Linked DNA regions of Homo sapiens: region 2 is linked to region 1. The links come from fine-mapping of genetic effects on gene expression. A gene starts in region 1. The other region holds a variant in brackets. All regions are shown on one strand. Distances are from middle to middle. Region 1 holds the start of DNMBP (dynamin binding protein). Region 2 overlaps DNMBP (dynamin binding protein).

Evidence for each region. PIP is the estimated chance that this variant, and not a neighbour inherited with it, causes the effect.
Region 2: its variant is the best candidate, but not a certain one, in a credible set for the expression of DNMBP in whole blood (TOPMed, PIP 0.57).

The regions. Positions count from the first base shown.
Region 1 is chr10:100,007,980-100,012,374 of GRCh38, reverse strand. DNMBP (dynamin binding protein) reads left to right here and starts at 2,428. Exons shown (of 17, transcript NM_015221.4): 1 at 2,428-2,537. RefSeq lists a silencer at 2,136-2,655.
Region 2 is chr10:99,973,396-99,977,790 of GRCh38, reverse strand. All of the region lies in intron 1 of DNMBP (dynamin binding protein), which reads left to right. Among named protein-coding and RNA genes, the nearest start is that of DNMBP, 34 kb to the left of the region's middle. The variant A/G (reference allele first, on the strand shown) is at 2,594.

The DNA of each region.
Region 1 (4,395 bases):
ATCTCCAACCTGACCAATCAGCACTCCCCACTTCTCAAGACCCCACCAGCCAAATTATCTTTAAAAACTCCACAAGGTCAGGAGATGGAGACAATCCTGGCTAACACGGTGATAGTCCGTTTCTACTACAAAAATACAAAAAAAAAATTAGCCAGGCGTGGTGGCGGGCGCCTGCAGTACCAGCTACTCGGGAGGCTGAGGCAGGAGAATGGCGGGAACCCAGAAGGCGGAGCTTGCAATGAGCCGAGATCACGCCGCTGCACTCAAGCCTGGGAGACGGAGCGAGACTCCGTCTCAAAAAAACAAACAAACAAAAAACTCCGATCCCCAGGCTGGGCGCAGTGGTTCATGCCTGTAATCCCAGTACTTTGGGAGGCCGAGGAGGGTGGATCACCTGAGGTCAGGAGTTCAAGCCCAGCCTGACCAACGTGGCGAAAAAAATAAATAAAACGAAATGCTTGATTTTTCATCTGAATTTCATATGGCATACTTGACTCCAAACAACTTTAGAAAGCTACATCCACAGAAAACAAAATTGTAGGAAACTGAATAATAAGTTATTTTTATTTTGGCTAATAACATTATCCAAAAATAAAGACAATAGATTTGCAATGTTAATTACTTTCTTGAGGAAAGAAAAGTCACTTGTTTTAAAATATTTATTTATTTATTTATTTATTTATTTATTTGAGACGGAGTCTCGCTGTGTCACCACGCTGGAGTGCAGTGGCGCGATCTCAGCTCACTGCAACCTCTACCTCCCGGGTTCAAGCGATTCTCCTGCCTCAGCCTCCCGAGTAGCTGGGACTACAGGCACCCACCACCATGACCAGCTAATTTTTTATTTTTAGTAGAGACAGGGTTTCACCATGTTGACCAGGATGGTCTCGTTCTCTTGACCTCGTGATCCGCCGAAAAGTCACAGTTTTACAGGCAAATGAAGCATTGCTAAGAATTTTAAAGACTCTCCGAACGTTGATATTTTACTACAAAATGTTCTCTTTACAGTGTTAACATGCTTCAAAAAGCAAAGGAAAAAAAAACAGTATGGTGGCTTCTCAAAAAATTAAACACAGAATTACCACATGATCCAGCAATTCTTCTGGATATATACCCAAAAGAATTGAAAGTAGGGACTCAGATATTTGTACACCCATGTTCATTGCAGCATTATTCACCATAGCCTAAAGGTACAAACAACCCAAATGTCCACAGAAAGATGGGATAAACCAAAGATGTTATATACGTACAATTGAGTATTATTCAGCCTTCAAAAGGAAGGATATTCTAACGCATGCTACAACATGGGTGAGCCTTGAAGACATTATGCTAGGTGAAAGAAGCCACTCACAAAAGGACAATATTGTATGATCCCACTTATATGAGGTATCCAGAGTAATCATAGAGACAGAAAGTAGAATGATGGTTACCAGGGGCTGGAGAATGAGGAGTTAGTGTTTAATGGGTACAGTTTCAGTTTGGGAAGATGAAAAAGTTCTGGAGCTGGATGGTGGTGATGGTTGCAGAACAATGTCAATGTACTTAATGCCACTGAACTGTACACTTAAAAAGGATTAAAATGGTAAATTTCATGTGATATATATTTAACCACAAGTTTTTAAAAAGCAAAGGGAAGGAGAAACATATACAGCATGGGATGAGATTTGTGAAATATTTATTTTTGTTGTGCATGCACAGTCATAGACTCGCCGCCTTCTTCAGAATCCTCTAGGTAGATTCCAGAAACGTGAGGCGCAGCAATTCCAGCAACATAGCCAAGCTGTGTAACTTCGTGGTCTTTAAACAAACAACGGGAATACTGCGGGGATTCAGAAACTGAGTCGGAGGAGGAGTTCTGACAGCCCTGCCCAGTTCTTGCTTCTGTCATTTCTTGCTCTCAAATTCTCAAAGATGTCCTGAGAGACTTTCCTCAGAAAAAAATGGGACAGATAGAGGCGAACCCCAGCGAGTATTGTGTGGCATAATAAGGGAAACTGCCTCGGGGTAGCAAAGAGGACAGCATCACACGCAGACAGGAATCGACTTGGACTTCTCTGAATGGAATTTTGACTTTTTTCTAGGTTGGAGGGTGGTGTCGGGAGTGGGGGAACAGCAAGAGTGGAGGAACTTGTCCGCAGCCGGGGCTGCACGTAGGACTGCGTGAGGCCGAGGCCCGACGAGCCGTGTCGGCGCGCTGCGGCGGGGGCGGGCCCCCGTGCCTCAGTTTCCCCGGTGGCCGTTCTGGGAGCGACGCCCCTCTGACGTCGCGAGGCGAGCAGGGCCGGGCCGGCCGCCAGGGGGCGCGAGCGCGGGGCGGGCGCCGGAGAGGTGGGCGCGCGGGCAGCGGAGCTTGGCGCCCCCGGGGCCGCGCGGACCGCGCCGGCAGAGGCGGAAGCCTGAGCGGGAGGCGGGGCGGCGCGCTGACTCACACGGGATCGACCCGCCCGCCGCTTCCAGGGGCGGAGGTGACAGCGGGCTGGGGACTGGCGGCTGCAACTGCCTGCCGCGCCGAGGGACCGCCGGGCGGCGGAAAGCAGGTCAGAGGCCGGGCCAGGCCGGAGCCGGGCGGGGGCCGGGCGGGGAGCGGGGGTCGCGGTCCGGGGCCGCGGGCGGAGGGGACCCGCACCCCGAGAGACGCGCCGCGCCGCGCCGCGCGGCTAGGCCTGTATCGGCCCTTTCCCAGCGGCGGCGCTGTGCTGCGCTCTGTGGGCCAGGAGCCCGCGAGGGACAGTGGGGCGCAGCGGGCCCCCTCGCACTCCTGTAGTCCCCGGGAGTTGGAGGGGTGGTCAGAGCAATGCGAACGTGGGCTTTTCAAGCGGTGTCAAGCCCAGGGCTCTTTCTCTGCACCGCCCTGCCACTCCGGCAATGAGGCGGAATTTTGAGAGCTGGAAAAAGAATTCTGCGTTAGTCCACCCCGCTGATTTTACAGATGTTCGGAGCCTTACGGCATAGGAGGCCGTGATTCTGTGTCAGGGAGACAGGGACAGATGGCTTCCGAAGCAAGGGTTAGACCTGTTCAGCTGGAGATGCAGCTTTGGTCATGGTGGAGTTTTGCAGAAACCCGCGGACACCCGCGTTCCTGCTGCAGGCACAGATGTCCACCGGGCATCTGTGTCTCAAAGGGTGGTGATGCTGTCACTTTAGTAAAGGAATATTGAGGTTACCAAACAGGCCGGGGCCTGATGCAGATGAGGAGTATAGACTTAAATTTTAAGTGCAAAAACAACTTTAAATGCAGTCTCATTATTACTGCCTGTCTCATTTGTACTGTAATGAAGGGTGAATATTTTTGGCACTCACTTATTCTGGAATATGGGTAACTTGCCTTTAGGTCTGTTTTATAGTAATTCTTTTACACAAACATGAAGATCTTGTATTAAAACACTTTCATAACTAATGATGCTGTAGTATGTGGCAGGCGAGTGGTAACGCTAATATTTAGGGTTTGAGCATAGTCTAGCTCTGCTTGTTTACATAGCTGAGTTAAACGGATGAGCAGGACTGATTAATCTGTAGTAGTTTTTGCAAGACTGAAGTACCTGACAGCATTCGGGGATCATTTCTCAGTTGGTGTTCCGTTTATTACTTTCACAGCATGAATACCGACACGGTGATCAGCAAGTTAGTTTATCCTCTACCCATTTTTCTCTAAAATATTGAATTAAAGGATCTCTAAGGTCCTCTTCTGTCTCGAGTTCTCCGATTTTACATGTTAACTTGAAACACGTCACTCATTGTGATAATAAAAATGTTTTAAGAAGAAAAGATTTTTAGAATTCTGCATAATGGGGCATAGCGAATCTTCAAATTCATTATTCTCAGCTCTCTCAGTCACTTTATCAGGGTTGGGCTAAAATAAGTGAAAAGTGACTTTTCAAATTGCAGATACTTACGTGTTAAATTCACTTAAATTCAGAGGCTGCAATGGAGTGATTTCTGGAGGGTGGAGAGTAGCTCAAGTCTGGCTTGGGAACGGGGTTCGTGCAGTGCACTGATAACTTTTGCAATAAGCCAAGAACAGTCTGACTCAGAGAATGTGATAAATTGACTTTTATACAGTGTTCATATTGTGTATTTTTTGGCTGAGATAATAATAATCTTCATAAACGATCTGTTTAAATATGCACCAGTTATTTATTTGTCTTGCAGCCCCAAGGCAGGGCATTTCCCTCAACGTTCCATCAATCTCTTCCTCTTTTCTGGCTCCTGACTTCAGGTGATCCGCCTGCCTCAGCCTCCCAAAATGCTGGGATTACAGGCGTGAGCCACCGAGCCTGGCTTTTGGCTTATTTTCTAGGTTTAGTATTCTGTTGTTTCTAGAGTCAGCTAATGGATTACCTACAACATGGTATTATTACGAGATTATCTCCTGTGAAATTCTCGAATGTGCTTGAT
Region 2 (4,395 bases), 35 kb after region 1:
TTGGAAAAAAATTTTTAAAAGATAAGAATAAAAAAAGAGTTTCATATATTTTCCCAAACTTCAACAAATCGTTTGTTCATCAAAAATCTGAAAATATTTTATGTGCCAGGCACTGCTGTAGACCAGTGAATGAAATAAATCTCTTCCTTCACAGAGTTTACATTCTAAAAGGGTTTGAAGAATTTTCTTTCCAAATATATCTATATTTCAAATGCAGAATGACTCCCTAAAGGTGGAAAGATAGGCGTTCACCAGCAAGGGAAGAAGATGGTGTTTTCATAGCAAATTTTTCTGCTGTCCCTGAAATCATGCCATATAAGCAGTAATTTCCTCGGTGTTCTCTCAAGCCCATCTGTGTTCTGATTTCCTCTGCAGTTCTTTTTACTTCTATCTGGAGTTGGTGGAACAGCTTATAGAAGCCATTTATGATTGTTTCAAAATATATGCTCAGGCTTCTAAAATGGCCCTGGCATGAATAAGAGTAGCTGCTTTTCATAGGGTATACAGGGCAGAGAAGACAGATGAGATTCGTCATATTATACATACTTTTGGGTCTCACACATGAATCATGTAATTTAGCGAGGCCGTGACTTCAGTACCCTTCTAGGGTGTGTGCTCCTCAGTGATTATGCACTCATTCCAATGGAGTAGGAGGTCAGTCAGTAAAAGTATTTATTGAGCCAGATTCTCCTCTGCTTCTGAGTCATTTTCTGGTAGAGTGAAAAGGTTCTCTGGGAGAAGCTTTAACTCTTTCAGATTACAAGCATTACTCCCTTTGTGTAATGGGGTAGTTCTCTAAGTAATTATATGGGGTTTATGCTAATTCTTTACTTGATATTTTAGATAATTAGATATATCTAGTCTGATAGATGAAATCTGAGAAAATGTAGTATAAGAAGAAAAATAGTATCTAATTTGGCCGAAGGTTAAGGAATAGTTTTAATAACATAAACATCTAGATGGCTAAGAAGTTTGCAGGACATTATGTGTGGTGTTTTTTTTTTTAAGAAAATACTTAGGACACCACCCTTATGTGGAAATCTGACATCTGGCAACTTCAGTCCTCTGGAAGACAGCCAGAAAGTAAGAAAGGGGCCTCAGTGCACATGAAAATAACTGTTGAAAAACTCTACCACGAACATGTGTCCTTTCCCACCACAGTAGAGTTTGTTAGCCTCGCATTTAGAGCTTGTTTACTTTTATTTATCTAGGAACTTTACATAATTTTGGTAGTATGCGTGTGGTCTCCCCTCCATAGCAGATCATAAACAGCAATATAGCAAGGGCGTGGAAAAGTTGACAGAGGAGAGCAGAGGGTAGGCTGACGTTGAAAGAGAAAGGCCTAAAAGATAGACAGTGCTGGTATTGTGTATCACAGCTTAATACAGTAATGTGTAGTCTTAATAATGAACTTGGACCCATCAGCCAAAGAGTAAGTCATGTTCAAGGTCTTCTAATAAAGAAGTCAGGGAAGTCTGGAGTGTGTCTATTTTTAAACAATCAAAGTTAACCAGGTTTTGACATGTTGAAATGGTAAGCTCCGTAGAGTTTATATGTTTGAAATAGCACATTCTCTGATGATGCTATATCAGTGACACAAATTTGAGCTTGCAGTTGATTATGGAAATGATGCTTTGTAATAATGACTAATGTTTATTGAGCAGCTACTATACCAGCCCTGACCTAGGTGCTTTCACACTGTTAGCATACTGGTTAAGGCTTTGGAGACAGACAGATTTGGGTTCCCATTACACCTCTGACTTACTATGTGACCTTGGACAGCTATCATCTCTCTGATCCCGTGTCCCCACCTGCCAAATGGGAACCAATAACATATGATAGGGTCCTTGCGAGGACTCAGGGAAGTACATGGTAAATGCATGTACCTAGGAAGTACTCAATGAATGTTAGGCACTGTTATAACTATAATAGTCTTGATGGTTATTATGAAAGTATGATTATCTCCATTTTTCTGGATGAGGAAACTGAAGCCCAGAGAGTTTAAGTAAGATGTCCAAGGTGAAATCGCTAATAAATAGTGGAGCTGGCCTGTGGACCTGGGTCTCTCTGACTACAGAAGCCTAGTGCTTTACATTCATATATGCTGCCTCTGCAGCATGTAATTATAATTAGATTTTTTTTGGTAATACTTAGAGAAAATGTGTTAGTAGCATCTGTGGGAAATACCCACTTACCACTTCTCTTTTCCACTGTGGACTCAAGTCGTCTTATTATAGACAAAAAGTCTATAATAAGTAACACAAAGATAACCTACTTTTGCTTGACAGTACAAATTAAATAGGTAATGTTTGTGTAGCATGATTTATTAACATCTTCTAGGTACTCCATATTAATATACTAAATGATTTATTATATGCCTAATATGTTTATCCACATCAGTGTTTTCTTGGATATAATTTTTTTTTTTTTTGAGACATAGTTTTGCTCTTGTTGCCCAGGCTGGAGTGCAATGGTGCGATTTTGGCTCACTGCAACTCCGCCTCCTGGGTTGAAGTGATTCTCCTGCCTCAGCCTCCTGAGTAGCTGGGATTACAGGCATGCACCACCACGCCTGGCTAATTTTGTAATTTTA[A/G]TAGAGACGGGGTTTCTCCATGTTGGTCAGGCTGGTCTCGAGCTCCCTGACCTCAGGTGATCCACCCGCCTCAGCCTCCCAAAGTGCTGGGATTACAGGCATGAGCCACCGTGCCTGGCTGGATTATAAATTAACAGAGGTCAGGTATGGTGGCTTCTCCCTGTAACCCCCTGGCACTTTGGGAGGCCAAGGTGGGTGGCCCAGGAGTTTGAGACCAGCCTGGGCAACATAGTAAAACCCTGTCTCTACAAAAAGGTACAAAAAAAATTAGCTGGGCATGGTTATGCATACCTGTAGCCATATGTACCCAGGAGGCTGAGGTGGGAAGATTGCTTGAGCCCTGGATATCGAGGCTACGGTGAGCCACTGCTCTCCAGCCTGGGCCTCAGAATAGGACCCTGTCTCATAAATAAATAAAATTAACAGAGCTACCACTACCTTTTCTTTTTTTGTAATTAGGCACTTCATGCTTTTTGATGTGATGATGGTTGTATGTGAGATGGAAGGTAGAGTCCTCATTCATCTCTACCAAGACCAAATAAGTACTTGAGATGGTTGAAAATAGACTTGTACTTGGGAGGCTGAGGCAGGAGGATCACTTGAGCCCAGGAGTTCAAGGCTGCAGTGAGCTATTTTTGCACTCCAGCCTGGGCAACAGAGCAAGACCCCATCTCTAAAAAGAAAAGAAAAGAAAAACAGATTTCAGGCCTGGATACTCTGGTGATCTTCAGCTGCTCCTTTAAGAGACCTAGGGAGAAATGTAGCTGTCATCAAGGCTGATTGTCTACAGAGGGATGGATGTCCACTACTTATGTCCTCTCTTTCTGCTGCTTCAATACATACGTAGGTTCCCCAGCCACATGCATCAAGGTAATGGACACATCGTCTTATTACAGCACAGACACCGTAACAGTACAAGGATACTCCCCGGGGTTGGGCCACTGACTTCTGTGAACCAAAAACATATACTTGATCTGGCATAGGATGCTAAATCTTGTCTGGAGGTGCCATCTACATAGTCCTTTCTTCCTTTCTTACAGATTTTTACTTTTCTAACTTTTTTTTTTATAAAATAGAGGTGAAGTCGTGCTGTGTTGCCCACGTTGGTCTTGAACTCCTGACTGCAATTGATCCTCTAGCCTTAGTCTCCCGAAGTGCTAGGATTATAGGCATGAGCCATTCAATAGATTTTCCCTTTCCTTTTCCTTTTTCCTTTTCTGAGTCTCACTCCGTCACCCAGGCTGGAATGCAATGAATGGCATGATCTCGGCTCACTGCAACCTCGGCCTCCCAGGTTCAAGTGATTCTCCTGCCTCAGCCTCCCAAGTAGCTGGGATTACAGGCACCCGCCACTGTGCCTGACTGATTTTTGTGTTTTTAGTAGAGACGGGGTTTCACCATGTTGCCCAGGCTGGCCTCAAAACTCCTCACCTCAGGTGATCTGCCCGCCTTGGCCTCGCAAAGTGCTGGGATTACAGGTGCGAGCCACCGCGCCAGTCCCCAACAGGTTTTCCATCTAGGCCTTTGAGGCATAGTTCTGCTGCTGTTCTTCAGGTTGTGGTACATTTGTTTGCAGATAGTCTCAGTAGGTAGGAACCAGAATGCCCTCAGTTTGAGTTCTGGCCCTGCTGCTGTGAGCACTGTGATCTTGGACAAATAATGTTTTCTAACTATACTGAGCCTTAGTATCCTAATCTTTAAGATCTATAGGGAATAAAATGCCATATTTAAAATCTCTACTTTTTAAAGTATTGTATTTTAAAATTACCATGTTGTCTGGTGTTTTAAAAATGTTAATTTCA